5 separate regions of the Homo sapiens genome follow, and all the other regions are linked to region 1. Evidence: fine-mapped expression QTL. A gene starts in region 1. Each other region holds a variant in brackets. All regions are shown on one strand. Distances are from middle to middle. Region 1 holds the start of ADAM8 (ADAM metallopeptidase domain 8). Region 2 overlaps PAOX (polyamine oxidase). Region 3 overlaps TUBGCP2 (tubulin gamma complex component 2). Region 4 holds the start of MIR202HG (MIR202 host gene). Region 5 has its middle 21 kb from the start of FRG2B.

Region 1 (5,963 bases):
GTAGCTGAACACTTCCCCATGGTAGGAGCAGGGCTGCTCAGGACGGACCCGCAGAAGGAGTGTGTGCCCCAGCTCCACTGTCCTTCCTCACCCCTGCTGCCCAGCACGCACCCGCAGAAGGGGTGTGCACCCTAGCTGCACCGTCCTTCCACACCCCTGCTGCCCAGCATGCACCCGCAGAAGGGGTGTGCACCCCAGCTCCACTGTCCTTCCTCACAGGCTTGACTTCAATGGTTTCTACACGGAGCGCCTGGAGCGCCTGTCTGCAGAGAGGAGCCAGAAGGCCACCCCCCAAGTGCCTGTCCTGCGGGGGCCCCCGGCTCCTGCACCCAGGGTCGCAGTCACCGCACAGTGAGCCCTGGCTGTGACAGGAAGGAAGGGTGTGGGGTCAGCAGGGACTGGTGCAAATGGGTCCAGAATTTTCAAATCGAATGCTCTGTGTTCTGTCTTTGCAGTTTAAATATAAAGCAGGAATGATTGACTCAGCTCACTTTGTTTCTCAAGGCGCTGGGTTTCGTTTTATAGAAGCTGCCCAGGCAGGGTGGATGTCTCCCTGGATTTGCTAATCTGTTTGCTTTTTGAAATTACACTATCACCTTTTTGGGTGTTTTTGGCCTCAAAGTGGAAATACATGGTGTTTAAGCCAGGAGCAAGCAAAGATGCATGTGGGGTAAGATCCAGGCCTGGTGTCCACATCTTTCCGGGTGAGCTGGGGCCGGGCTTCCTGAGGTCTGTCGGAACCGGGACAAGCCTCTGGAAACGGTCAGGGAGTTGTGGAAACCCACCGGGCATCGGGTGTCGGGTTTGCTTTGGCCCCAGAGGCAGCCCCGTTCCTTCTCCTGAGGACTCACCCGCCTCCACGACCCTCCTCCTGCTGCTGCTCCAACTGGTCCAGGGCAGGAGGCCACAGACAGGGCCCTCAGGCACCCTGGGAGCCCACACCTCCCCCTCCGTGGGAGTGGGTCGAGGGGCAGGCTCTGCTGCTGGCTGGAAACCCCACCCCGCCCTATCCGGTACCGCCTTGTTACGTAGAACTTACTCAGCAGACTGACACCCAATCCCCCTCGGGCGATCATCTGCCCTGTCTTCCCACCTCCAGGGCTACAGTGGGCAGCACCGCCATCCCCAGTGTGACAGGGCCCTGGGAGCCTCAGGGCTGCCCGGCCAGGTTGGTCTGCTCTGGTTACATTCTGGCCAAGCTGCCCCTTCCTGCTGACCTGCATGTGTATTGTTGTCACCTTCAGCTCTCAGCACCTCGGCCCCCTTGGGCAGTGAGGAAGGGCCCTGGAGGCGAGGTTGGGAGAAAGGATAGCTAGAACAGGATCCTGCGGGGAACAAGGGTTGTGGGCAGCTCTCACCCGGGGCTGCCTCACTGAGAGCACCGCCGAGTGGGGGTGGGGGTGTCCAACTCTCCAGCCACAAACCGCTTCCTCCTTGTCTGCAGGCTGTGCAGGTCTGGCCTGTGAGTAAACACATTTATCAGCAACCCAAGCTGTCAGTCTCAGTGTTGTGCAAATGCCGGACTGGTGAGCAGAGGAGCCTGCTAGCTTTCCTGCCTGGCCCCGAGGCCCAGAAACCCCTGATCTTGTGTCCTGGGGTCTGGGAAGCCCTGGGCCTTGAGAAGTGGGGTTTGCAGGTGGTGATAGGAGGAGGGGAGGGAAGCCTCCAGGGCTGTGGGGTTCAGGCTCCCAGACCCCCCGGCACCTGCTGAAGAGGAGAGCTGTGTTCTGTGGGATTGGGTGGAACTTCCTCAGCGCGGGAGGAGCCTGTTCTGGCCCAAGCTGGTCCTGTCTTTTTAGGAATAAATCCCTGGTAGCTCAGCGTCGGCAGGGGCCTTGCTGTGCCTCTGATGTGGCCAGCGTGCCGCCTTTGCACTTTGCTGTTGAGTAACTTGCACCATGAGGTCAAGGAAGGGAAGTGTGATTGCCAGCTGGCCATTGTTCTATAATAACAGGGTCACCTGCATGAGCTCAGGCACAGGCCAGTATCCCCAGCCCTACCTGGGAGCCTCTCGGCAGCCTGGGGGACCTCGTCCTGTGCCACACAGGCAAGCGGACACACCCCCAGGCAGCAGAAGTCACCTGCGGCCCAGTGCCAGCCCTTGCTTTCTTGCTTTTCATGCCATTCACATTAGGGTAAGAATGGCTTTGAGACAAAATGTGACAGCATCACTCACGCCAGCTTAGATCCTCCGGGTTCCCTGTCCTCCCAGGATAACGTCCGAGGCCCCGGCCTCTTCTTGCCACTGCCCCTTGACCTCTGTCCTCTGCCCCTAGGCCCGTGCAGTTCCCTGACTCGCCCTGCCCTGGTGCCCTCTCTCCAGGCAGGACTCCCTCCAGCCCCTTGCTGGCCCTGCCCTGCCTCTCCCCAGGGAGGCCCTGAGGCCCCCCCCCCCCATGTGATCTGTCAGCAGCGCCCTGTGTGGTCATCTGAGCTGCCTTTCCTGCCACCACCACTGTTCCCACTCCAGGAGGGCGGCCTGGCTGTGAAAGCCCCAGGGAGGGGTCCTGGGTGGACCGTCTGGGGAGCTGTGGTGTCAGCCCAAACCTGCACCCTCGAGGCTGAGCCCACCACGGGGAATGTGGTCACCAAGGGCAAGCACGCTTGGCCGCAGGCCTGGAGACGCCGGAGCCAGGCCACGGTGGGCTGCTGCAGGCTTTGGTCCACGTCGGCCAGCGTCAGCTGCTGTCTGGGGATCTTAGGCTAGGGACGGCCCCTGCACCTGCCATCACCTGGGCTGGGACCCCCACCTAGGGCTCCCCCTCCCCACTTGGACGCCTGCGGGCCCATGCCTATCCCACTCCGGTGAGGCCTCAGCCTGGTGGAGGGGGCGCAGGCTTGGGGGGGAGGGTGGCAGAGCTTCCCACAGGGCTGAACCTATGCCCACAAAGCCATGACTTGCCCCTGCCTGAGGCTTTCTGTTCCCCAGGAAATCAGAGACCCCCTCTCCTGAAACCGCCAGGCGGCCCTCACAAGTCCCTTCCCCTCCAGGACCTGCCTGGCGCCACCTCCTTCCAGCCGCCGGGTCCTTCGAGAGGCCCCCTCTCGGGGCTCTGGCCGGACTTGGGACAGGCTGTGCCTGAGTTTCCTCACCTGTGCAAGGGAGGATGCTGGATTGTGGGGAGAGGGGAAACGGACCCCGCCCCCAGGTGCCGCGCGCCCCGCCCCTCCCACCGGCCGAGGGGCCCATTGGCTGCGGGGCGCCGGGGCGGGGCGCGCGGAAAAGAGCCTCGGGCCAGGAGCGCAGGAACCAGACCGTGTCCCGCGGGGCTGTCACCTCCGCCTCTGCTCCCCGACCCGGCCATGCGCGGCCTCGGGCTCTGGCTGCTGGGCGCGATGATGCTGCCTGGTGAGTGGTTCCAGGGAACCGTCCCGGGCGCAGCGCGGGGCAGGGTGGCTCTCCCCGCAGGACGCGACGCGGACCCCGAGCCCCTGGCCTGCTCGCACCCCGCACCCTGGCCCGGCTTCGGGCTGGTCCCTGGGAGCGGGCCATCAGGTGCACAGTGGTCTCTGGGTGGAGAGCCCCGGGCCGGGGAGGCCGGGGAGGTCGGAGGGAACCTTCAAAGGTGAACTGTGAGAGGGAAGTCCCGCCTCTGAGCTTGTTAGTGGGGTCGGGGCCGGGCCAAGCAGGACGCTTCACCTGCTGCGCGAGGCGCCCTGGGTTCCTGGGATTCACCTGTGGGGCTACCCACCCCCACTATTTAGCCGAGGAGGGAAGGGAGGGCAGACAAGCTGAGGCCTGGAGTGCAGGGGTGTGGGCTGAGGGGACCCGTCTCCTGCCTGGGGGAGGACATGGGGCTGCTGACCCTGGATCCCACCCCTGCTCCTGGAGTGACTTGGGCTGGGGTGTGCTGAGGAGCTTCAGGCTGGAGGCCGGGTTGCTTCCCGCCAGTTTCCTGGGCAGATAGGGGCTGGCTGCTCCCCTGCTGCCTCTCCAGGTTGGAGATGTGGTCATGGAGACACGTCCACTATTGTGTTTTAATGGGAGCAAAGGGTCCTGGGGTTGGTGGTCTCCGAAACCCTGCCCATTGCATGCTGGGACCCTGCCCTCTGCTCTCGGATACCAGGGAGTTTCCAGTTCTTGGGAGGTGAACAGCCTCCGGGAGGCACTTCCTGCTCCCCAGTTAGATGCGATCAGATGATCAGAAGAATGGAGGAGGAGAATGGAAACGGGCAGGTCGGCGGCCCGAGTCCTCCTCCCTGGGGGGAAGGTTCATCCTTGCCCTCGGGCCCCTCCAGAGATCTGAGACAGCCTGGAGACCTGTGGAGTCACTGGCACCCGCTGGCACCCACAGCGTCTCTGAGCACTGTGTGTGGGTGCTGCAGGACACAGGCCCACCGGCCATGCCTGGGGGCGCTCCTGGGGTCTTTTAGGCACAGAACCCTCACTTGAGTCTTTGTCCCAGAGCTATCTGGTGAGTTCCCCAGGGGAGGGTCAAGCCCAGCAAGAGACAGAATCTGAGGGCCCAGGAGGCCTCTGGGAAGGAAACCTGCCCCCCGGCCCCTCATGCCTGCTGACCCTCCCTCCTGCAGCGATTGCCCCCAGCCGGCCCTGGGCCCTCATGGAGCAGTATGAGGTCGTGTTGCCGTGGCGTCTGCCAGGCCCCCGAGTCCGCCGAGCTCTGCCCTCCCACTTGGTGAGTCTAAGCTGGCCTGGGGAGGGTCCCTGGCTGGCCCCTGAGCCTATTTTTGTGAAAGGAGCTTTAGCTTACAGAAAGTGGTGAGAGGCCAGTGGGTGTCTGGGGCTGCCCTGTACAGCTCTAGCCCCCTGGGGCCCATCTCCGTTCCTCCCTCCAGCACTGCCTGAGGGCTCCCAGCCTCCTCGTTCCTTCAGGAGCTCTATGGACCCCTGGAAGGGAGCAGGGGCAGGTTGTGCTGGCCCCGGGCCCCTCCCCAGTTTCACTTGGCGAGGCTGATAAGCCAAATTCCTCTTTGAGAAGTGACGCTGGCTCACCGCAGAGTTGACACACCTTCCTGTGTTGGGGGGGGGGCCTGGCGGGGGTTTCCCAGGGCTAGAAACTGAGAATGCCCCCCTCCCCGACTGGGGCTGCCCGAGGGTGATTCCTGAAGCCTGAGTGGGTGGGTGTGCACACATGTGCACGGCATATGCATGTGTGCACCTGTTTCCAGGGAGGGCAGTTCCGGCCCCAGCCCTGTCCTTACCTCAGCATCCGGGGAACCTACTACCGACCTGCCCGCTGCCCTGGGCTCATCCAGCCGGTGGCACAGCTAAGGCTGTCCCAGAGCTCTGCAGGCCGAGCCCCAGCCTGCACATGGGGGCTGGAGATGCAGTGGTCCAGCAGGAGGCTCTGCAGGCACCACCAGGTCCGGCAGCTGCTGGAAGGGATGGGTCCTGGAGGCAGGCAGCTGTCGCTGGAGGGGCCTGTGCGTGCTATCCCCGCCACCCACCTCCTTTGCTGCCTGGCTGAGGCTATGCCTCCCCCACCCTATGCTTTCTCGGGGAAGGGGCATTGTCGTTACCCATGCGTGGTCAGATGGGGAAACTGAGGCCTGGGAGGACCGAGGAGCACCGTGTCCTTCCTGTCTACCCAAGTGCTGGGCTCCGCCGGTCGCCTTCAGCACAGCCCCGTTCCCTACCCTCCACCCTCCACCCCCCGCCCCCCACCCTCTGCCCTCCGCCCCCCGCCTCCACCCTCCACCCTCCACTCTCCACCCTCCACCTTCCACCCCCCACCCCCTGCCCCCTACCCTCCACCCTCCACCCTCTACCCTGCCTGAGGCTGTGGACCCTCCAGGATGGAGCCTTGACCTGGGGCTGGAGGCCGGCACCCCTTCCCCCCCAGCTGAGCTTCTCTGGCCCCCAGGATTGAGGTGGGCACAGCCCGGGCAGGCTGCTCACCTGGGACCCTTCCCTCCTCGCTCAGGGCCTGCACCCAGAGAGGGTGAGCTACGTCCTTGGGGCCACAGGGCACAACTTCACCCTCCACCTGCGGAAGAACAGG
Region 2 (5,963 bases), 110 kb before region 1:
AAACAACTAACAAATAGTATTTATAGACAATGACAAAGTTTAAGCTCTCAAGCAAAAACTGCAATTTTAGAAAAGCTTGTTTCTGCCACCAACAGCATAACAGCTTCCCAATCCTGAAAGACTTTTCTGAGATCAGTGGTATGTTAATAAATTTGATTTTTTATATTGTATAATGAAATGTATCAACATTTGGAAGACTACATGAACCAATATATATATATTTTATTTTTTTAAGACATGGCCTCCCTCTGTTGCCCAGGCTGGAGTTCAGTGGCTTGATCACAGCTCACTGCAACCTCCGCCTCCTGGGCTCAAGCAATCCTCCCACCTCAGCCTCCCAGTAGCTGGGACCACAGGCACGCACCACCACATCTGGCTAGCTTTTTGTATTTTTGGTAGAGACTGGGTCTTGCTATGTTGCCCAGGCTGGTCTCGAACTCCTGAGTTCAAGCCATCTGCACACCTTGGCCTCCCAAAGTGCTGGAATTACCGGCATGAGCCACCAAGCCCAGCCTAGTATTTTCCAATGACTAAAGCCATGGATAGATAAAAGATCCATTTAAAGTGCAAGACAGACAAATAGATTTCAGTGTCACAGAAGACAAAAAATTCACTGGTGTGCTCTCCAATTTCATATTTGGCCAACCTTTAAGGAATTACTACTACATCTTGACTTTTGAGGTAGTATCAAAGAATACCCACAATCATTTCAAAAGCTATTTAAATATCACTCCTTTGGCCGGGCGCAGTAGCTCACGCCTGTAATCCCAATACTTTGGGAGGCCAAGGTGGGCAGATCACTTGAGGTCAGGAGTTCGAGACCAGCCTGACCAACATGGAGAAACCCCATCTCTGCTAAAAATACTAAATTAGCCGGGTGTGGTGGTGGGCACCTGTAATCCCAGCTACTCAGGAGGCTGAGGCAGGAGAATTGCTTGAACCCGGGAGGCGGAGGTTGCAGTGAACCGAGATCGAGCTATTACACTCCAGCCTGGGCGACAAAAGCAAAACTCCATCTCATAAATAAACAAATATCACTCCTTCTTCCAACCACATATCCATGTAGATCCACATTTTCTTCCTATGTTTCAACCAAAATAAAACATCACCACAGAATGAATGCAGAGGAGGCCTGAGAACCCAGATGTCTTCTATTAAGTGTAACACTGAAGAGTTTTGCAGAAAAGGCCGGGCGTGGTGGCTCACACCTGTAATCCCAGCACTTTGGGAGGCCAAGGTGGGCGGATCACTTGAGGCCAGGAGTTCGAGACCAGCCTGGCCAACATGGCAAAACCCTGTCTCTACTAAAACTACAAAAATTAGCTGGGCATGGTGGCACACACCTATAATCCCAGCTACTCGGGAGGCTGAGGCAGGAAAATCGCTTGAACCCAAGAGGCAGAGGTTGCAGTGAGCTGAGATCACGCCACTGCATTCCATGCATTCCAGCCTGGGTGACAGAGAGACCTTGTCTCAAAAAAAAAAAAAAAAAGTTTTGCAGAAAAGACAAAACTGCTGCCACCCTTCATTAAATTTTAAGAAAATATTCATTTAAAAATGTTATTTATGCTAACATAGAATAGGTTTGTTACTATCATCTCAAATAATAATTTAATTTATCATGTGGTGACTGGGTGCGGTGGCTCATGCCTGTAATCCCAGCACTTTGGGAGGCCGAGGCGGGCGGATCACGAGGTCAGGAGATCGAGACCATCCTGGCTAACACGGTGAAACCCTGTCTCTACTAAAAATACAAACAATTAGCCGGGCGTGGTGGTGGGTGCCTGTAGTTCCAGCTACTCAGGAGGCTGAGGCAGGAGAATGGCGTGAACCCAGGAGGTGGGGCTTGCAGTGAGCCAAGATTGCACCACTGCACTCCAGTCTGGGGGACAGAGCGAGACTCCATCTCAAAAACAAAAAAATATTTTATTTATCATGGGGTAAATTTACAGATGTGACTCACATAAACAAAAGCTCTTTGAGATCCCCAACCCTTTGCAGGTATATAAAAGGATGGGACAGCTACCACCCCGTGCCACAGACAGGGTCCCACCAAAGCACTCAGGGTCCCACTGATGTCCTAAGCAAGAGAGCACAGGAGGTGGGGCTGGGCCTGGAGCAGGTGGCTCTACACACAGTCACCCACCCGGCTGCCCACCAGCAACCCAGGCCTATCTCAACACCTGGAATGCCAGTTTTCTTTCTTTTTTTTTTTAGACAGAGTTTTGCTCTTGTTGCCAAGGCTGGAGTGCAGTGGCACAATCTCAGCTCACTGCAACCTCTGCCTCCCAGGTTCAAGCGATTGTCCTGCCTCAGCCTCCTGAGTAGCTGTGATTACAGGTGCGTGCCACCACACCGGCTAATTTTTTGTATTTTTAGTAGAGACGGGGTTTCATCATGTTGGCCAGGCTGGTCTCGAACTCCTGACCTCAGGTGATCCACCCGCCTCAGCCTCCCAAAGTGCAGGGATTACAGACATGAGCCACCGCGCCTGGCCGAAATGCCAGTTTTCTCTTCAGTGTGAAGGAGACACACAGGCTTCCCCCGTCACAGGTGCAGGGCTGGTCTGCAGCCTGCAGCCTCCTGCTCCCAGTGGATGGCAACTATGAACCATCTGGCAGGCATGCCCTACATCCCACCCCATCCCGGGTCTTTCAGAACAAGAACTTGGTGCCCCCTCCTGCGGCATCTCTCAGTGGAAACGTGGAATTATTTCTGCCATCTGACTATATCAGGCTGTCTTTGTGTTTTAATCTTGCTGGAAAAGTCAGTCCCTCCATCCCCACATCACTCATGGGATTAACTCCTGAATCGCCACGTGGTCTAGATATGCTGTTTCTAAGAGGGCCAGCCCATACAAGGGAGCCCTTCCTCTGTGGGTCTCCCATTCCATTACTTCTCGGAATGTTTCCTTCAATTATTTCATCCCATTTAAGTATTGTCTCCCCACGTATGGGCAGATGGTGTTTCAAAGTTCTTCTGTATCTACAAGCCCCAGCTCCCTGCAACATTCCAGTAAACACGTTCCCACTGACTGAAGACTGAGCCTGCCTGCAAGTCTACAAACACATTCTGGGCCCTGAGGGACGCTGACAACCCGCATACAGCAGGGCGCCATCTGTCCCCGCAGGGGTCAGGCCCAGGTGCAGCCAGCACCTGGTGGGGGGGCGCTCATGGGAACCCTACCCATTAAACCCCCTAGAAATACCCTGCAGTGAACAGACACACTGCTGCGTCCTCCATCAGATGAAGGCCTATGAGCCAGCCACTCGCAGAACTTCTCAGGGAGCAAACGTACGCAAAGGCAGGCAGGACCACAAAGCCAATGAGCTTCCGGAACCAGGCGTCCTGTAGCTCAGGGGCA[G/A]CATCCTCCAGGGGCGACGTGTCCTCCCACACCAGCTGGATCAGCTGGCAGTCTGGCTCCCAGAAGGGCTCCTCAAACTCCAGGAAGATTTTGTTGTTGGTCCCAAAGCCTATCTTCCTGATTGCTTCTGCCTTCTCAGCCGGCAGGGGAGGGTCAAAGAAGGTGTCCAAATGTTCCCTAAGAAAACCTGGAATTCAGAATTGGACTCTTCTTACATCACATAAAGCCCTCCACGGAAGTCCTGTCTGTCCAGACCTTGGATCCAGCAATTTCCCCTGCTGGTGTTTATCCTACAGACACATTCACACAAGCAGTTTTACTTTTTTGTCCTTGTTTTTGAGATAGGGTCTTGCTCTGTTGCCCAGGCTAGAGTGCATGCAGCACCATGATCAGGGCTCACTGCAGCCTTGACCTCCCTGGCTCAGTCCTCCCACTTTGGCCTCCCAAACTGCTGGGATTACAGGCGTGAGCCTCTGTTCCCCACCTTTCACACAAGTGTTTTTTGTTTTTTTGTTTTTTGGGTTTTCTTTTTTTTTTTTTTTTTGAGATGGATTCTCACTCTGTCGCCCAAGCTGGAATGCAACGATGCCATCTTGGCTCACTGCAACCTCCACCTCCCAGGTTCTAGTGATTCTCCTGCCTCAGCTTCCCAAATAGCTGGGATTACAGGCACCCACGACCAGGCCCAGCTAATTTTTCTATTTTTAGTAGAGATGGGGTCTTGCCATGTTGGTTAGGCTGGTCTTGAACTCGTGACCTCAGGTGATCTACCTGCCTCAGCCTCCCGAAGTGCTGGGATTACAGGCGTGAGCCACCGTGCCTGGCCAACACAAGTGTTTTTAAGTGCACATGTAAAACTGCATGAAATAGAAAAAGTGAAGGCCACCTAAATTTCCATCTATGCTTATGAAATAATGACAAGAAAACACTGCGTGGCAAATTAACCCGCTCCTTTTTTTTTGAGACGGAGTTTCGCTCTGGTCTCCCAGGCTGGAGTGCAATGGCACAATCTCGGCTCACTGCAACCTCTGCCTCCTGGGTTCAAGCAATTCTCCAGCCTCAGCCTCCTGAGTAGCTGGGACTACAGGCACCCGACGGCTAATTTTTGTGAACTGGCTCCTTATAAACAAAATGCTCACAGTTGTAGCAATGTATCTACTGACAATGTCCCCGTGATCAGCACTTAGCAGGGCCTGCAAGCACTTACTCCAAACGTGAATGAACAAAGCCACTGGAGGGAAACAAAAAAGACCGCTGTAGATCTATGTGTGCTGATTTGGAAACACTGACAAGTTCTATTAAGAAAAAAACAAAAAACAAAAACAGGCAAACTGAGCAGCAGATTTTTGGTTTTTTTTTTTTTCTGAGACAGAGTCTCACTCTGTCACCCAGGCTGGAGTGCAATGACACCATCTCGGCTCACTGTGACCTCTGCCTCCCCCGTTCAAGCGATTCTCCTGCCTCAGCCTCCCAAGTAGCTGGAATTACAGGTGCCTGCCACCATGCCCAGCTAATTTTTGGATTTTTAGTAGAGACAGGGTTTCATCATGTTGACCAGGCTGGTCTCGAACTCCTGACCTCAGGTGATCCGCCTGCCTCAGCTTCCCAAAGGGCTGGGATTACAAGCGTGAGCCACCGTGCCCAGCCAGCAGCAGATGTTCATGTGTGGACGACGACTGCATCTCTGGGAAACAGCAATGGGGTCTCAGTGCTCATCCCTGCCCCGGGGAGGGCAAAGCCACCCCTTGGAGACAGGAGTTAGGGCTGCGGAGGCTCCTGCTTTTCATCACACACCTGTCAATCACACCTAGATTTCCAAGTGAGTGCTGGCAATCGCTAGCTTTGTGAACTTGGGCAATTAAGTGACTTCTCTCTACTTGCCTAGATGTTCAAATCTGTCATATGTGGGACAATGACAGACACCTCCCAAGGCTGCCTGAGTCAATGAGATAACTCAGGCAGAGACCCACGGCAGCGTGAAACCCGTGGGAAGCAAATGTCCAGTTGACAGCAATTATCCTAGTAACTCTGTTTTCAACCATCTCCACCTTTTATAAAACAGCTTCAAACCACCTCTACTCAAGGACAGATCTAAAGCACCAGATCTAGAATTAAACAGAATTATACACACGGCTCCTTCAACAGGTCACCCCAGGCCTGACCTTCAGACCAGGCCTTTCATGCCTTTTCCTGTCTGCAGCAAAGTGCGGTGTGGTTAATCTCCAAGGCCGTCGCAACCCTAAACGGTTACCTCCAAGCGAGCAGGACGCATACTTACTCGCGTTTTTTCTTACGGTGAAACCCTTAATTCCAAAGCATGTAATTGCTACAAAACATAACAGAATCATTCCTTCCACCTATCTGGAACTTACTAGAACGAAAATGTGAGCTTCGTACACAAGCAAACGCCCCAGAGCCAACTGAGGCAGGGTAAGGGCAGAGGCGGGGGCACTTGGGATGGGGGTTTGGGCTGAAAACCTGACCTACCTAAGGGCACGGTGACGATGACATGGTGCGCCGGGAACCGGTCTCCATCCTCACACTCTACCGACACTGGAAAGGTCTCCCCGGGAAAGGCTGCCTCCTGGAAGGACCCGTT
Region 3 (5,963 bases), 22 kb before region 1:
GGTGCAGGGTGAGCGCCACCCCGGGGTCAGGATGGTGCAGGGTGAGCACTGCCCCTGGTGCAGGGCTGTGTACCGTGCAAGATGCAGGGTGAGTGCCCGTTCCTGGGTGGCCTCAATGGTACCGGCAACGATGGCAGACAGCACTTGGTCTGTGTGTGTGTTCAGCTCTGATTCTCCTGACTCCCCCCAGCAGCTCCTGTGATTCACCCCACTGTGCAGATGAGTAAATGGAGGCCTATGGAGAAAGCTGGGCCTAGAACCCTCCCTCTTCCCCACTCTGTCCCCTGCAGCCATGAGGTGGGAGAGTCCTGACATGTGCATTCCTGTGGATAAAAAGGGAGGGACTGGGCCAGGCGCGGTGGCTCACACCTGTAATCCCAGCACTTTGGGAGGCTGAGGCAGGTGGATCACAAGGTCAGGAGATCAAGACCACCCTGGCTAACACGGTGAAACCCCGTCTCTACTAAAAATACAAAAAATTAGCTGGGTGTGGTGGCGGGCACCTGTAATCCCAGCTACTCGGGGGGCTGAGGCAGGAGAGTGGCGTGAACCCGGGAGGTGGAGCTTGCAGTGAGCCGAGATATCGTGCCACTGCATTCCAGCCTGGGCGTCAGAGTGAGACTCTGTCTCAAAAAAAAAAAAAAAAAAAAAAAAAAAAAAGGGAGGGACTGGTATTAACCATGTTGAAATGCCTTTAAGGTATTATTTCTTTATTCAGATAATATGTAATTCAGAAGTATAGATTTTCAGTAAAAATGATTTTGAATTTGAAGTCTATTTTAAAAAATACATTATGAAGCTTCAGTTATTTAAACAGGTTAACAATGGCACAAGGATAATTAGGCAAATTAGCCGAGTGGAATAGAGACTTGGGGACACCCATGTTTAGTTCATTCTGAAGGAAGCATTGTAAATCACTGAGTAAAACATAACCCCTGCTGGGCACGGTCGCTCACACCTGTAATCCCAGCCCTTTGGGAGGCCGAGGCGGGTGGATCACCTAAGGTTGGGAGTTCGAGACCAGCCTGGCCAACATGGAGAAACCCCATCGCTACTAAAAATACAAAAATTAGGGCGTGGTGGTGCGTGCCAGTAATGCAGCTACTCAGGAGGCTGAGGCAGGAGAATTACTTGAACCAGGGAGGTGGAGGTTGCGGTGAGCCTAGATCACGCCATTGCACTCCAGCCTGGGCAACAAGAGCGAAACTCCGTCCAAAAGAAAAAGCATAACCCCTAGGGTTGCACATAATAACAAATTCCAGAGGGAACATAGTGAGGTGTATACAATGAACGCATAAACTACTGCGGGGAATACAGTGAGATGCAGACAATGAACGCATAAACTACTGGGGGGAAAAGGTAAGTCGCTACTCTCCAGTACAAACCTGAAGAAGCATAAAAGGGAACACAGTGAGATGCATACAATGAACGCATAAACTACTGGGGGGAAATGCAAGTTGCTACTCTCCAGTACAAACCTGAAGCAGCATAAAAGGGAATACAGTGAAATGTATACAATGAACGCATAAACTACTGGGGGGAAGTGTAAGTCGCTACTCTCCAGTACAAACCTGAAGAAGCATAAAAGGGCGGGCGCAGGGGCTCACACCTGTAACGCCAGCACTTTGGGACGAGGCAGGTGGATGGCTTGAGCCTGGGAGTTTGAGAGCAGTCTGGGCAACATGGTGAAATCCTGTCTCTAGAAAAAATTAAAATAATACGAAGAAGCACAAAAGGAAAGGAACCATAATGGGAAATACGGATAAGGTTTGTTTTGTTTTGTTTTGAGACAGAGTCTTACTCTGTCACCCAGGCTGGAATGCATGTGGCACGATCTTGTCTTACTGCAGTCTCAACCTCCCAGGCTGATGTGATCCTCCCATCTCAGCTTCCCAAGTAGTGACCACAGGCAAGTGCCACCACGCCTCGCTAATTTTTGAATCTTTTTGTAGAAATGGGGTTTTGTTATTTTGGCCAGGCTGGTCTTGAACTCCTGGACTCAAGCAGTCTACCAGCCTCGGCCTCCCAAAGTGCTGGGATTACAGTCATGAGCCACTGCCTAGCTCAAAACATGGATAAGTTTAACACAATATGGAGATGAGTTTTGTTAGTTTATTTCAGAGGGATAATTATTTAACCTACCCAATTTAATTCCATTGGCTTATTGTGTTCAATTTTCGTAAAGGTTTTTTTTTACAGTGCTTTATTAATTACCGTCATTAAATCACTCATGTTTGTGCTTTTGAGGTTAAAATTGCAGAGTTTTCTCGTACTCCAGAAGACTTTCTAAAGAAATATGATGAACTGAAATCTAAAAATACAAGGAACCTTGACCCGCTGGTGTACCTGTTGTCAAAGCTCACGGAAGACAAAGAGGTAGGTGCCCATGCCACGTGCCACACTGCGCCCGTA[C/T]GGCCCATGTTGGGAGTGGGGTCGCGTCTCCTGCTCACTCCACGCCATCTTCCTGTCAGCTCTTCCTCGCTCACACCAGTAACGCTTCTAGGCCATGTAGGAAATTTTTGGTGAATCAGAATGAAAGATAACCCATGTTGGGTGTAAACATGAGAAGCAGCCTCTGGGGCACTTTGAGCTTCCCGCATGTGTCACGCTCAGTTCCTGCCTGTCGCACGCGTCGCTTTGCTATTAATGGGTGCCTGTCAGGGTTGGGGAGCCGTCCTGGTGGTGTCGTCCCTACTCTCCCCCTATGGCCAAAGAGGTGCTGGCCCAGTGTGAACACACAGTTTTACATGTTTTCAGACTCTGCAGTACTTACAACAGAATGCAAAAGAAAGAGCTGAGCTTGCAGCCGCTGCTGTGGGCAGCAGTACCACCAGCATCAACGTCCCTGCCGCGGCCTCCAAGATCTCCATGCAGGAGCTTGAGGAACTGAGGAAGCAGCTTGGCAGCGTGGCCACAGGCTCCACGCTGCAGCAGGTACTGCGTCCATGGCTGTCCACAGGCTCCATGCTGCAGCAGGTCCTGTGTCCGTGGCGTCCACAGGCACCCACACTCAGTGCTGTGCCGGGCCCCTGCTGGAAGGACATGTCTCTCTGTCATTTATTGAAAATGAATCCCTTAGAGAGGCCAAGGCTTAATGCTTGATCATGACCTAGCTCTATATGTTTAGTTTTTTTTTTAACCAAGAATTCTGGACCACAAGAATCAATAGCAGCAAGGTTCTGACCCACGTGGGAGTTGTGCTGCCAGGTGGCCACGTGACTCTGAGCCTACCCAATCCTGACTCCCCATTTCCCTCCTCCAATTTTTGACAATTTTGAGGGAATGCTTTCAGATCATTATATTTTCAAGATTCTCGAAAATACAGTAATTTTTATTATTCCTTCTGTATTTGCTACTTGCTCTTGGTTTTGATTTTATGCCCTACCCTGGTCTTTTGACGTAAGTCATCTCCCAGTCTCTCTCATTAGAGCTGCCACGTTCCTGCCTTTGTGACCTTTAAACTCCCTTTGGAGCTGTGTCCCTGAGGCGTCCTAGCCTCCTGGGTGCGTGTTGAGTGCAGCGGCTCCCAAGGACCCAGCCGGTTCTTGCTGGGCACGTTCTGTGCTGGACATGGTGCTAGGCCTCTGTCCACGTCTCCCTCAGCCGTGGCAGAAGACTGGGTCTTACTGCCACGTGCAGAGACAGTTTGCATCTGCCCGTGTCCCTGACCAGCCCTGAGTGGGAGTCAGTGCTTCCGAAAGCTGGGCCAGCCCAGGCCGACCCCATCAGCCTCTGGCGGCCACTGGCGCAGGAGGGCAGGCTCTCTGACCACATGTCAGGAGCCATCCTGTCACGCTGGGGCCCTTCTCCGGCAGGGTAAGGATGCATGTCTGTTGCTGAAGCCTGTCTTCACCCATCAAGTGGTGTTCAGACCTAGTCACTGCCAGAAAGAAGCAATTCAGCTTGTTCACAGGGCGCCCTCCTTTGAAACAGCGGCTCTGTGCCTAGGTGCACCCTCTCCCGTGGTTCCCACTGCTGGTGCTCATGTTTTCCCAGGGGGGCCCTTGCAGGACCTGCACTCCTGAGAAGAGGGGCTAGGGCTCCCCATCTGCCCTGTTGTCCCCAGCCCCTCACGTTGTGGCAGGCAGGGATGTCGAGGCGCATTTCATTTCTATGTGGTTGACCCTTTGTGGGTGTTGAATTGAGTAATCATCTTTGCCGTAGATGCTAGCTTCTATGCATGTCTTTAGTTGAGTGTTTGCGCTAAAGTGTATCTTTCTGGTTTTGTTTTTTAAAATGTCCTTGCTAGTCTCTGGAACTTAAAAGAAAGATGCTTCGAGACAAGCAGAACAAAAAAAATTCAGGCCAGCACCTCCCCATCTTCCCAGCATGGGTGTATGAGAGACCTGCCCTGATCGGGGATTTCCTGATTGGTGCTGGCATCAGCACAGACACCGCTTTGCCGATAGGTACGTGATGCGTTGATTTCCGGGCTCTGCCGATAGGTACGTGATGCGTTGATTTCCGGGCTCTGCCGATAGGTATGTCATGTGTTTATTTCTGGCCTCTGGGCAGGACACTTTGCAGGCCCAGCCCTCCCCCGGGCCTGCCTTTCCTCAGGTTGTGAGGCTCAATGCTGACTGGCTGCCGCCTCCATATTCCCATCCCAGGATGGCAGCAGAGAACGGCTCACCCGGGTCCTTGAGGGTTCTTCTCCTGTCCCTTCTGCCAGAGCTGTGGGGCAGCCTGCAGCAGGCCCCTCCCCAGCCGGCATCCTGGTGCCCTGGTGCAGACCTGCAGGCATCAGAATTGTGTGCAGCACTTATTTCTGAACAGCGATTCATGACTCCCATAGATTCTGTTACAGCAGTATTCTCAGAGGCCTCTTAAGTAGTGTTCGTGTAAACAAGATGCGGGTGAGACCACACAGTCATTTCAAGACGTTGTTATTGGGGACCTGGGATGTGTTCATCTGTCACAATTCATGGGTACATTTTTATTTTTATTTATTTTTAGTTCTTTTGAGATGGAATCTCGCTCTGTCGCCCAGGCTGAAGTGCAGTGGCGTGATCTCGGCACACTGCAACCTCCACCTCCCAGGTTGAAGCGATTCTCCTGCCTCAGCCTCCCAAGTAGCTGGGACTGCAGGCGCCACCACGCCTGGCTAATTTTTATATTTTTAGTAGAGACGGGGTTTTGCCGTGTTGGCCAGACTGGTCTCGAACTCCTGACCTCTGGTGATCTGCCCACCTTGGCCTCACAAAGTGCTGGGATTACAGGCATGAGCCACCACGCCTAGTCAAGTACATTTTTAGATTGAAAAATGAGATTTCACAAACTAAGGACAGAGCATACCTGCTTATCTTGCCCCATCCCCGTTAGTCCAAACTCAAGAGGCAGCATGGAGCGTGGTCTGCTTCCCCACTACTCACGGCTCTGCAATGTGGGCACCAAGGGGCCAACCCTTGCCTTTGCCGGAAACCCTGGAGAACGGTGACGTGAAATCCACCTGTTTTCCTCATCCCCAAGCAAACAGAACCCTGCTGTAAGTTAATGAAAAGTATAGAAAAACCCTGCTGTAAGTTATGAGAAGTATAGAAAACCATGCTGTAAGTTAATGAAAAGTATGGAAAACAGTCTACTTCGGCCAGGCATGGTGGCTCACACCTGTAATCCCAGCACTTAGGGAGGTGAGGTGCGTGGATTCCTTGAGCCCAGGAATTCGAGACCAGCCTGGGCGACAGGACGAGACTAGTCTCTACAAAAAATGTGAAAATTAGCCGAGTGTGGTAGCGTGCACCTGTAGTCCCAGCTACTCAGGAGGCTGAGGTGGGAGGATCACTTGAGCCTGAGAGGTCGAGGCTGCAGTGAGCTGTGATCGTGCCACTGCACTCCAGCCTGGGCAACAGAGCGAGACCCTGTTTCAAAAAAAAAAAAACAAAGCAGTCTGCTTTGTGCAGTGTTTTCAGTAATAATCCAACTGTGAAAACCCAACTGTGAAGACTTAGGGAGAGAGAGCTGCT
Region 4 (5,963 bases), 30 kb after region 1:
GAAACGGGGAGAAACAACGGGGAGAAACAGGGAGGGCTGATGCTGGGCGGAGGCCCAGGATGGGGGGCTCTGCAGGGGCCTTTTGAGCCCAGGCCCCCGAAGTGTGATGCTGGGGCTCTCTGTGTAGGTTCTAGGTGTCTGGAGGAGTGGGGCCCCTCCCCTGCTAGCCCCCCAAGGACTCTTCCTCGGATCCTCGGACCTCATGGAGGTGGGGGACCATGGGCGTGTGTGAGTGAGGGTAAGCATAAGTGTGTGAATTGTGCATGCGTGTGCGGATGTGAGCGTGCCTGCAGGAGTGAGTGTGGGTGAGCCTGAGTGTGTGAATTGTGCATGCACGTGTGTGTGGATGTGAGCATGCCTGCAGGAGTGTGCGTGAGCCTGAGTGTGAGCATGCGTGTGTCTGAGCTCCACGTTCCCTCCTCCCCCAGAAGGCAACCCTCAGCCTGCCAGCAGGTGGATGGAGCCCAGCAGCCCCCCGTGCCCACTCTGGGCCTCGTTGTGGGGGACCAGCCCTGAGCAGGGCCTGTCCCCAGCCCCATGTCCCCACCAGGAGGGCTTGTGACCGACTGATGTGCTCCCCCCCACCCCTCTGTGGCCATCGCTGGTCGTGACAATCACCTGCTTGGCCTGGCGTGCAGATCAACGGTTTGCACAAGGTGGGGGCAGAGGCTGCTCCCATGGGGGGTCTGCAGAGTGGCCTGGCAGGTGGCTGGGTCATCATCCATCGTCCATCATCCCCATGGTCCCTATGGCTCCTCCTGCCCAGCAGGGCCCACTCGTCCTTCCCCAGACGGGGCTCCTGGCCGCCTCGGGGGCCATCAGGAGGGCGCTGGACAGTCTTGCAGCCCCACCTGGCCCCTCATGCCCCCCACGCCCCTCCCCACTCAGGGGACAGGAGACTCTCGCGTACAACAGTCAAGGCCCGCTGCACCTGGGGGGTGTGTGGGTCCATTGTGTGCGTGTCTGTGTGTGTCTCTGTGTACATCTGTGTCTCTGTGTGTCTACATGTCTGAGTGTGTCTCTGTCTACATGTCTGTGTCTCTGTGTGTGTCTATGTGTGTCTGTGTGTGTCTCTGTGTGTGTCTATGTGAGTCTATATGTGTCTACGTGTGTCTATGGGGGTCTCTGTGTGTCCCTGCCGCATGTGGGTGCTGCGTCGGGTCAGTCCTGAGACTCTGGCCCTACAGATCACAGGTGCTGGGGCCAGGCGCCCGCACGGGCCTGCCTAGCGACGTTGAGTCTCCCCGAGGACATGGTCACTGAAGAGGCCTCTGAGGCCTCAGCCTTGTTCCTTCACCAGCCTCCACTTGCCTACGTCCTGGGGAGAGACCGCTGGCTGGGGTTCAGAAGCCCTGTCCCTGGCCACCTGTGGAAGCCCTGTGCCCTGGCCTCCTCTGGGCCTCTTCCTTGTGTCCTGAGCCTGGGACACAGGGACAGCCCCAGACCTGCAGGAGTTCTGCTGCCTGCCTGGGCCCTTCGGCCGGGGGCTCCCTGGCCCTAGGAGAGGGTGTCTGCCTGCCTGTGTGGTCTCGCTCTGTGTGGGCAGCTGTGGGTCTGGCCAGCTGTCCCTGAGGGGCCCTCTCCCTCCGACCCTGCACTCTTGCCCCCAAGGCTGCAGAGCGTGGCCCCTCTCCACGTGCTCGCGGGCTCTGTGGCCCGGGGAAGGCTCTGGGCCTCACTGGACCAGTGTCCGCCTGATGCCGTGAATCCTCAGGGAGCCCCAGCTGTGGAGGCCGCCCCAGGCCAAGCAGGGCCACCTACCCTGGGGGTGGGGTCTGGTTCCCAGTGGCCAGGACAGTGTTGGACACGCTGGCTGGGGGTTCTGAGAGTCCCTGTGAGCCAGGAGGCTGCGGGTGCAGCCCAAGGTGCTGCTTATTGCTGAGCTGGGCAGGCCCAGGAAGGAGAGTCGGCCCCTTCCCTGGACAAGCGATTCTTGCTCACGTGTGCTTTCCGGGCCCCTGACGCAAGCAGAAGCGCGTGGGGAGATAAGGGTTGGAGGAGGCGGGGGGACAGGCTGGCCCCATCCCAGCTCCCGGGCCAGCAGCCCCCGGCCCACAGCCCTCGCCGCCCGCCCGCCCGGCGGGCCCTGGCTCAGCACTCTTCTCACAGCAGGTCTTTGTGCCCCAATCTGGCAGGTGCGGGGGTGCGACGGGGTCCTTGGCACAGAGCAGCCCTCTGGTTGCATGTGACAGCGGCGGCCAAGGTCTCCCCTGCGCATAAATGTGGAGCTCGCTCGGCAGCAGCAGAACTCCCGGCTCAGAGAGTTCTCCACCGCTCCTCCCAGGCTCACGAGGCTCACGGGCTACCCAGCGCCAGCGGCCCAGGAGGCTGGACCACAGGTAAGACGAGGCCCAAGGCCTGCCTCTGGGAACTCGGCCCTGGCTTGGCTCTGCCCTCCTCACTCCCACAGGATCTCCGTGCCCACCAGGCCTCAGTCCCGACTTCTCCCTGCTGCCCGGCACGGGACCCTCCCCCAGGACAGCCACCTCCCAGTGCTGAAGAGCCGGCCCGCCTCAGAGCCGCCCGCCGTTCCTTTTTCCTATGCATATACTTCTTTGAGGATCTGGCCTAAAGAGGTATAGGGCATGGGAAAACGGGGCGGTCGGGTCCTCCCCAGCGGCACCTGCACCAGTGCACCTGCACCTGCTCCAGCAGCACCTGCCTCCTGACTTGGGACTCCACCTGCTTCCTTTCTCCTCGGCCGGGAGCCCCGGGGCTTTGACCCCCACATCCTTGGGGCAGAAAGGGGCCAAATATTCTAAAACAAGGGAAACGTGGATGTGTGCTTTTGTGTGGGTTCTGGAAGTGTCTGGGGAGGACGTGGTCCAGGCCTCTGCCCTGGGTTGATCTCTGCAGCCCCTGAGCTGGGACCCAGGATGCAGAGAGGAGGGCTGGAGCTGGG[C/T]GGTGCTCTGTGACCAGTCTGACCGGAGTTGGGGGTGGACCCATTACAGGAGGTGGCGGGAGGGACAACCTGGGCTCTGGGGCCGCCTGGTGGTCGGGGGAAGTGGGGCGGGGTGCCTGGGATCTGGGCTCTGGCTGGGAGGATCCACAACTCATTCTTTGGACATTTTCTTTGCAGACTACGAAGCTGCACCGTGTGGGGCCCACTTTTTATACAAGCGGGTGGCGGTGGATCCAGGCGCAGACGGGAGTGAGGCGTGGCGGAGACGCGTGCACGCTGGGTCTGTGCACTTTTGCTGCTGCTGCTTTTTTTTTTTTTTTTTTTTTTTGAGATGGAGTCTCGTTCTGTCACCCAGGCTGGAGTGCAGTGGCGCGATCTCGGCTCACTACAACCTCTGTCTCCCGGGTTTAAGCGACTTTCCTGTCTCAGCCTCCCAAGTAGCTGAAACGACAGGCGCCTGCCACCATACCCGGCTAATTTTTTTATTTTTAGTAGAGATAGGGTTTCACCTTGTTAGGCTGGTCTTGAACTCCTGACCTCATGATCCACCTCACTCGGCCTCCCAAAGTGCTGGGATTACAGGCGTGAGCCACAGCGCCCGGCTGGCTGTTGCTTCTTAACACCTTTATTACTTTTGTAATCATGGGTATGAGTTGATTTTCTGGTCAGAAATTTCAGTAGAGCTAATTTCATTTAAATGTGTGAGATGTGGTAAAGTTTTGACAATAAATACAAATTTTGACAAAGCAGCTCTGTCGTGCTGGTCTCCTCTCGTTCACGGTGGTTGGACGTCACATTAGTCACGTGTGGACTTGGGGGAACTTAGTTAAAAATGCATAAACACGGGGGGATGAAACGGCTCCTGGGGCCTCGGTTGGGGGCCTGGGCTGGGCACCGGTCTGGGGCCACCCTTCTGATGACCAGAGCCTGGGACCGGCCGGCAGTGTTGGGAGAGCCCAGAGGGACGGCTTGTGAGGGTGGGGGGCACTGGTCTGTCCTGGGCGGGGGCCCCGCAGCTTCCAGGCCTCCACAATGGCCAGGGTGGGACTGCGGTCTTGACTTCCCACTGAAGAAAAATGGACAGGGGGTCCCTCATCAGCCCTGTTTAAAGAATGACAGTCGGCTGCTGTCTTAAAAGGAGGCCTGAACGGGAGTCGGGGAGGCCCCACCCTTCAGCCAGAGTCCTCGTCAGCCGGCAGGGCCACGCCCAGGTCTTTGAAGGCCACAGCCTTTATCACCAATGAGCCCAGCAAATGGAGCAATGAGCTGGCTGAGAGGCCCCCAGGCCGGTTATCAGGGGCTGCCTCCCCAGGCTGCGCCTCCTCTCCAAGCCTAGCACTAATCTCATCTGATAGTCACCTCCCACCTCCCTCACAGCCCGCAGCTGGGGTGTCCGAGGGGAAAGATCAGGCAGCAGGCAGAGGGGTGGGGTGCTTCCGGCCGGGGGGCCGCAGGCCACATGTGGAAGGGCAGCCACGCCCCCCACCCCAACGAGCTCGGCTGCTCCCCCTGCCCCCTAGGGAACGGTGGAGGTCGGCCCTGCTGGGGAGTCTCTTGCAGGCCTTCGAGTCACTCTCCACAGGACACCTGAACATAGGGCTTTAAAGCTGCACAGATAAAGCAGGTATTACCTCGCTGTGCTGTGCGGACATGCAGCAGCAGCTGTTACTCCAGACAGTGTCGGCAGAATGGGGATGCAGGCACGGCTGGATCCAGGGAGCCAAAGGCTCTGCCTCACTCTGCGCTCGTACCCCGCCTGGCTCCGTCCCTCCGCCTCACTCTGCGCTCGTACCCTGCCCAGCTCTGTCCCTGCAAGGCTGCGGTGTAATTAACAGCACCTGCTGGGCTGTGAAAGGAGAGGCCCCACTCTCCAGTATGGTGCCCATTTCCCCAGAAGAGCTGTGGTTCTGAGGGCTATGCCCTCCCTGGGATCTGGGCTGGGTGAGCTGGGCCGTGTGCCCTCACCTGTACTGCAGGGTGGGCGGCTTGCTGGGCAGGGAGAGGGATGAATTCCCCCAGGAAGATGGGCAGGGCTCCTGCCAAGACCCCACCAAGGTGGCTGTCCAGGCTTGCCAAGACATGCCCACGTATCAGGTCCAGCCACTGAGACCCTGCTGAGGGCATTGGAAGGAGCACAGGGGCCAGGACGGGGCTGGAAGGCGTCCCAGAAACGGAGGCCTCCTGGCCACAGCCCCCCGGTCCTGAGGCCGTTGTCCTGTGAATGGTAGGTGGGGGCTGAGGGGCACCATGGGGGAGTGGCTCACTGTGGCTTCTGTGGACAGCCAGGCTGGGAATGAGGGTCCTCCTGGCCTGGGAACAAGAGGAAGCCCTCTGAGACCCTGCCTTGGGGAGTACTCAGGAGCCCCAGGAGTCCCCTGAGAAGCTGACCGCCACTCTGGGGCATGAACGGAACCTTTCTGAGGTGGGGGTGGCAGAGCCTCCCAGCCAGGCTGCAGAGGCAATGGGGGGAGGGCCAGCGCTTCTGGTACTTACCTTTTTTTTTTTTTTTTTGAGTTGGTGTCTTGCTCTGTTGCACAGGCTGGAATGCACTGGCACGATCTTGGCCCACTGCACCCTCCGCCTCCCAGGTTCACGTCATTCTCCTGCTTCAGCCTCCAGAGTAGCTGGGACTACAGGTGCCCGCCACCGTGCCCGGCTAATTTTTGTATTTTTAGTAGAGATGGTTTTCACCATCTTGGCCAGGCTGGTCTCGAACTCCTTACCTCATGATCTACCTGACTCGGCCTCCCAAAGTGCTGGGATTAAAGGTGTGAGCCACCGCGCCCGGCCCAGGTGATTTTTCTTTGACTGGGGGCTGTGCAGGGCCCCACCAAACACCCCTAAAGGAGGCCAAGGCCTGCTTTTGTTCAGTGAGCCCACTTTGCTCCAGAGGTCCTGGCGTGGCCTAGGAGGCCCTGAGCACTCTGCCACTTCCTCACGGCCTGGAAGCCGACAAGTCTGGGCTCAGAATGGGAGTGAGTGCTGGGCCTCGGAAGAGACGCTGGGGCCGGCTAGGGGCCGAGTCCAAGCAGCCTCTTCCCTGCAGTTTCCTGGATAGTCT
Region 5 (5,963 bases), 330 kb before region 1:
TTTCAGTTTTACAATATTGAAGGTGAGATTTTCCTCTCTGCCCTCTAGATGGCGTTTAATTCTTTCCCATTGGTGTTCTGTCTCATTGTAACTATGAGGAGTAATGCAAAAATCGGATATATTCCAAACACAACGCATTTGAATTCTAGTTTCTAAACTTAGGATGTGATCCCCCATCCAAATTACTGTCTGACAGAGATCACTGATTTGACTATCTTTTGATCTATTTGGGCCTGAGAGTTCCATAATTTCGTAGAATTCTTTTGCCATTTATCAACAAATTCAACAGTCTGCACAGATGAGTGTAAAGCCACACCAGCTACTGCAGCAGTAGTGGTAACAGCAATGAGGCCAATTATAGCAAATACAAGAGCAACTGTGAATCTTTTTGAATGGGATAACAGGTTTTTAAGAATCTCAGTTACAATATGAATGGATGGTGATGCATCCCGTGGTCTATTTAGAGACACAGGGATCCAAACTCCTTCTCTGGCTCTAATTAACAAGAAAGTTTGATTTTTATCAAAGGTTGAGTTAATGCAACTAAACAAGTGACATTCGGGGCATGTGATAGAATGGGTATTTATGTCAAGAATAACATTTCCTATTGCTAACATAAAAGGTGGCTGGACACAACTTTGAATCCAAAAGGTCTGCCACAGACAGTACTGCCAGCATGGCCACCTTTAACTTACTAGTTGTTTTTGGTTTGTTCTGTGCTCTGAGGTTGGCCTCTGCCATCTGTGCCAGTTTGACTTGGCCCCATGTTGGAAGATCCACCTGGCGAGTATTCACAGTCTTTTTCTTTGTCTCTGAGATGTTCATTCATGCCATCACTTGTATAGGGAGCTCTGGCTCTTCCCAGGGTCCTCTCTTCCTGGTGTGGCTCATGATGGATCTTCAGATGTTTGGTGGGCACCCACAGACAACTGATTGTCACCTGGAGAGACAAAAGCAAATCCTCTTCCCCATGTAATTATTTTTCCTTTTTCCCACCTTTTTGTATGTGCATCCCTCCACCATATATCTTGTCCAGCCTTTTATTTTCCTTTTGTCCTGTCAGATGTTGTTCAGCTGCAGTCATGGGTTGATCTTTTTGTAAATTTAAAATAAAGCTAAGTGTAATTGCATATGTGGGGATTTATATGTCTGATTTCCCCCTTTTTGTTTTTGTATTTGAGTTTTTAAGGTATGATTAGCTCTTTCAACTATTGCTTGTCCTTGTGAGTTTCATGGAATTCCTGTAGTATAAGTAATATTCCACTGCTGAAAAAATGCAGTCATGGCTTTACTGCAATACCCTGGGCCATTATCAGTTTTTATTTTTTTTGGAATTCCCATAACTGCAAAGCAAGATAAAAGATGTCTTTTAACATGAGCTGTAGCTTCCCTGTTTGACATGTGGCCCAGATAAAATGTGAATAAGTATCTACTGAAACATGAACAAAAGACAATTTTCCAAAGGCGGGAACATGTGTTACATCCATCTGCCAGATGGAATTTGGAGATAAACCTTTAGGGTTAACTCCTGCTCCTTGATGTGGTAGATGTAAAACTTGACAGGCAGAGCAGTTTCCTTAGCCTGTTTCCATGATAAATTATATATTTTTCTCAGACCTGTGGCATTAAGATGGGCTAAAGAATGGATTGTCTGTGCATCATCAAAAGCTGCAGAAACCAGTGCATCTGCCCTTTGATTAAGTTTAGTCAAAGGGCCTGGGAGGTTAACGTGTGCTCTTATGTGAGTGATATAGAAAGGGGAGTGTCTTTGTTGTACTGCTTGCTATAAAGAATGAAATAAAAGATTAAGTTGTTCATCAGTCACATTGTGAATTAAAGCACATTCAATATTTTGTGTGGCTTGTATCACATAAGCTGAATCAGAAACAATATTAACTGGCTGTTTAAAGGTTTTTAACACCATAATTACAGCCATAAGTTCAGCCCATTGAGCAGATGTGAAGCCAGTTTGAAAAACTTGTTGTTGAGGTCCTACAAATGAGTCTTTTCCATTACCAAACCCGTCAGTAAAAACAGTAATGGCCCCTTCAATAGGGGCTTTTTGAGTAATGGAAGGCAATATCCATGATGTTAACTTAAGAAACTGGAATATTTTGAATTTAGGATAATGTCTATCAAGAACACCAATAAAACCAGCCAAATTAACTTGCCATTCCTGGGAATTAATATAAGCTTGCTGAATTTGTTGTTTGTTTAATGAAACTATAATCCGATTTGGATCATATCCCATTAACTCTGTTGTGTGCAGCCTTGCTTGTCCTACTAGTAAAGCAATTTGATCTAAGTACAGGGTGAGCGTTTTAGTTGCATTGTGAAGTAGAAAAAGCCACTCAACCAGATCATTCTGTTGAACAATAACTCCTGTAGGTGAACGTTTAGTGGGAAAAACTAAAAACTGTAATGGCTGTGTAGGGTCAATTCGTTTCACCTGTGCTTTTTCTTCAATTAATTGAAGTTCTTCTAATGCTTCTTTGGATACAGAGC[G/A]TTTACTATTAAGCTCAGAATCACCTTGTAAGGTAGCAAAGAGGTGAGACATACCATAAGTAGAAATGCCTAATGTGGGATGAATCCAATTAATATCTCCTAAAAATTTTTGAAAACCATTTAGAGTTTTTAAATTATCTCTTCGAATTTGAACCTTTTGAGGCTTAATATAACTTTATTCTACCTTCACTACTAAATATTGAAAGGGGGTAGAAGTTTGGATTTTATCAGGGGCTATGATTAACCCTATTGCCATTACAGCCTTTTCTAATTGTTTGTAGCATAACATTAATTCCTCCCTAGTTTCAGCTGCACATAAAATATCCATGTAATGGATACTATCACATTTTAAAAATTGTTCTCTAACTGGCTTAATAGCTTGTCTGACATAAGTTTGACAAAGAGTTGGGCTACTTAACATGCTTTCTGGTAATACTTTCCAATGGTATCTGTCCACTAGTTCTTTGTTATTTACAGCAGGAACAGTAAAAGCAAATTTTTCATAATCTTGGGTAGCTAAAGGAATAGTAAAGAAGCAATCTTTTAAATCTATCACTATGAGAGGCCAGTATCTAGGAATCATAGTTGGGGAAGCCAGCTCTGGTTGCAGCATGCCCGTGGGTTGAATTACAGCATTAATAGCCCTTAAAGCTGTTAACATTTTCCATTTACCTGATTTTTTCTTAATAACAAGCACAAGAGAATTACAAGGAGAGAAAGTAGGCTCTATGTGTCCCTTTTGCAATTGTTCCTGCACCAATTCTTTTAAAGCCTCCAGTTTTTCCTGTTTCAGCAGCCACTGCTCTACCCAAACTGGTTTGGCAGCTAACCAAACAAGAGGAATGGGAGCCAGAGGCTCAGCAATGGCCTCTCCTAAAAATGATACCCTAATCCAGTTCGATCTGTGTGCCCTTTTAATTCTAAAGGTTCTGGTTGGCCATTTTCATTTTTTCCTAGTACTTTCCCCAGGAGATATCCCATTTTTCTCATCATTTCTTTACTGTTATTACTATACTGATCCACAGGAATAGATATTTCAGCAACCCATCATTGTAATAAGACTCTACCCTATAGATTGACAGGAATAGGTGTAAATGGGTTGAATTGTCCCTTCTTGGCCATCCAACCCTTGGCATGGCAAAATTAAAGAACTTTGAAAAACTTCTGAGGCAGTCTCTATGCCAACAATACCCACTGAAGCCTTTTCTTTGGGCCATTTCGGGGCCATTGATTTAAAGCAATAATAGAGACATCAGCTCCAATGTCTACTAATCATTCAAAGTCTTTACCTTGAATGGTTATTGTACAAATAGGTCTTTTGTCAGACACTTGATTAACCCAATAGACAGCCTTTCCTGCTGGATCTGTACTACCAAAGCCTCCTGTTCTTTTTACTGTACTACTTCCTAGCTTGGTGTAAGGTAATAGTAATAACTGAGCAATTCCTTCTCCTGAGGAAGCAGACACGGAGTTGAGGAACTAATAACTAATTGAATTTCTCTGGTATAATCAGAATCAATTATTCCTGTATGTACAGTGACACCTCTTAAATTTAAACTAGACCTTCCAAGCAATAGCCCAACTGTTCCCGAGGGTAAAGGGCCCCTAACTCCTGTGGGGACCTTCTTTGGTGGCTCCCCAGGATGTAAGGAAATGGGAACTGTGCTGCAAAGATCTGCAGCGGCACAGCCTGCTGTGGCAGGGGACAATTATTGTACATTTGTAACGGCACTGACTGTGCCGGATTCACCTCGGTTTGTTGAGGGACCTGAGGCGGGCCCCTCTTCCCATTTCCCAAAAAAGGTTGCCCATCTTTGCTAAATTTAGAATGACACTGATTTCCCCAGTGATTGCCCTTCTTGCATCAGGGGAAGATACCAGGACTTCTTTGTTGCTTACTGGTAGTATCCCTCGCCTGTTGATTTCCTTTTTATATTACTTTTTTTTGTGTGTCCAAATTGCCCACAATTAAAACAAGAGCCTGAGAAACAGGGCATATTTTTCCCACCTTTAGTCCAGTCATAGCTTGAGCTAGAAGAGTAGCCCTTATGTAAGTTACCCCCAATGCATCACAAGCCTTAATATATTCAGCCAAATGACCTTCCGTCTCATAGGTTTAATAGCAGCTTGACACTCTATATTGGCATTATCATATGCAAGGAGATGTATTACAACATCTTGAGCTGTTCTGTCAGTTACAGCTTTATGCATAGTCTCTTGGAGCCGAGCAATAAAATCAGTATATGGTTCTTTAGGTCCTTGTTGGACAGAACTGAAAGAAGGATATTTTTCTCCTGTAACATTTATTCTAGCTTCTTTCAGTCGTCCTCAGGTGTCCTCTGATGATGCATCCTCCACCTCCACACGCTCTAGTGTTCCTTCACCAGGGTATTCATAGCACCATGTTGGGAGCTAGGAATACTGGCATGATCAGACCCAATACCAGGCTGTGGGGGCTACGAAGTCCAGCAGAGTCAAAGGAATGAGAAAAGACAGGTTAAGAGTGCATAAGATGGGTCCAGGGGGCCAATGCTGGTATGGAGGCTGCAAAGGCCCTGAGCTCTGGGATCCCATACTATTTATTGGTGATCAAACAAAGAAGCAGGTGGTGAGGATGTGCAGATGTGGGGGTAGAAAGGTAGCGCTGCATCAAGCATAGCTGTGACGGTTTAGCATTTCCTTTGAAGCACATGGAACATGCTCTGCTACTTGAGATAATAGAGAACATGTTCTTCCAACTCAAGATACAATCAATTTATGATCCTGGGAGAGCAAGAAGCAAGGAGCCAGCAAGTCTGGACACATTCCAGAGGCTATGAGGGTTTTGACGCCCTGAGCCCTGGATTCCATTCAAGCCATGAGGGGTTTTATGCCCTGGGCTTAGACTGTGGTGCCACAGGGCAGCCTTCCACCCTTTGGCACAGAGCTTGGTGTTCCAAAGGCCACAAGGGGGTTTAGACCCTGGACCCAGGACATGTTCCAAGACTTTTTTACATTATGACAGACAAGCTAGTCCTGGCTCGGCTCTTCTACCAACACCATGCTGCTGGAGTGAAGGGAAAAATAAAGATATTCTCAGATGAAAGAGAACTAAGAGAATTTGTTGCTAGCAGACTTACCCTTCAAGAATGGCTAAAGAAATCCCTCCAAACAGAAATAAAATGAAAACAGAAAGAACATGAAAACAGCAAGACAGAATTTTCATAAAGGAAAATAATGAAATTGGTAAAAGGAGAAGTATACATGATAGAATATTCTTCACTTTATGTGTTTCTTTAATCATGTTTTATGTTTGAAGTAAAAGTTATAATACTACCTCATGTGGTATTCAATGTATACAGAGGAAATACCCAGGACAATTATACTTTTTTAAGTGGGAAGGTAAAGGAAGCTGTATTAGTCAGTGTTCTCCACAGGGATAGAACTGATAGGATCTATGTATATATGAAAGGCAGTTT

Evidence for each region.
Region 2: its variant is fine-mapped to the expression of ADAM8 in whole blood (TOPMed, PIP above 0.99).
Region 3: its variant is fine-mapped to the expression of ADAM8 in whole blood (TOPMed, PIP above 0.99).
Region 4: its variant is fine-mapped to the expression of ADAM8 in whole blood (INTERVAL, PIP above 0.99).
Region 5: its variant is fine-mapped to the expression of ADAM8 in whole blood (TOPMed, PIP above 0.99).

Annotation. Positions count from the first base shown.
Region 1 is chr10:133,274,158-133,280,120 of GRCh38, reverse strand. ADAM8 (ADAM metallopeptidase domain 8) reads left to right here and starts at 3,253. Exons shown (of 23, transcript NM_001109.5): 1 at 3,253-3,349; 2 at 4,534-4,637; 3 at 5,886-5,962. The coding sequence starts at 3,304. It overlaps TUBGCP2 (tubulin gamma complex component 2), which reads left to right. Exons shown (of 18, transcript NM_006659.4): 18 at 220-1,486. The coding sequence ends at 355. RefSeq lists enhancers at 1,229-1,308, 1,799-1,848, 3,163-3,810, 4,814-5,073, 5,111-5,760 and a silencer at 3,004-3,563.
Region 2 is chr10:133,381,548-133,387,510 of GRCh38, reverse strand. PAOX (polyamine oxidase) reads right to left here. Exons shown (of 7, transcript NM_152911.4): 3 at 5,852-5,963; 4 at 3,299-3,551. Among named protein-coding and RNA genes, the nearest start is that of PAOX, 5.3 kb to the right of the region's middle. The variant G/A (reference allele first, on the strand shown) is at 3,365.
Region 3 is chr10:133,296,398-133,302,360 of GRCh38, reverse strand. TUBGCP2 (tubulin gamma complex component 2) reads left to right here. Exons shown (of 18, transcript NM_006659.4): 3 at 2,248-2,376; 4 at 2,758-2,934; 5 at 4,250-4,409. Among named protein-coding and RNA genes, the nearest start is that of TUBGCP2, 9.5 kb to the left of the region's middle. The variant C/T (reference allele first, on the strand shown) is at 2,413.
Region 4 is chr10:133,244,167-133,250,129 of GRCh38, reverse strand. It overlaps MIR202HG (MIR202 host gene), which reads left to right and starts at 2,245. Exons shown (of 2, transcript NR_108079.1): 1 at 2,245-2,339; 2 at 3,080-3,651. MIR202 (microRNA 202) reads left to right here and starts at 2,510; the gene lies at 2,510-2,619. RefSeq lists enhancers at 1,323-1,837, 2,354-2,868, 4,437-5,289, 4,621-5,820 and a silencer at 2,954-3,073. The variant C/T (reference allele first, on the strand shown) is at 2,903.
Region 5 is chr10:133,603,121-133,609,083 of GRCh38, reverse strand. No RefSeq gene overlaps it. Among named protein-coding and RNA genes, the nearest start is that of FRG2B, 21 kb to the left of the region's middle. The variant G/A (reference allele first, on the strand shown) is at 2,506.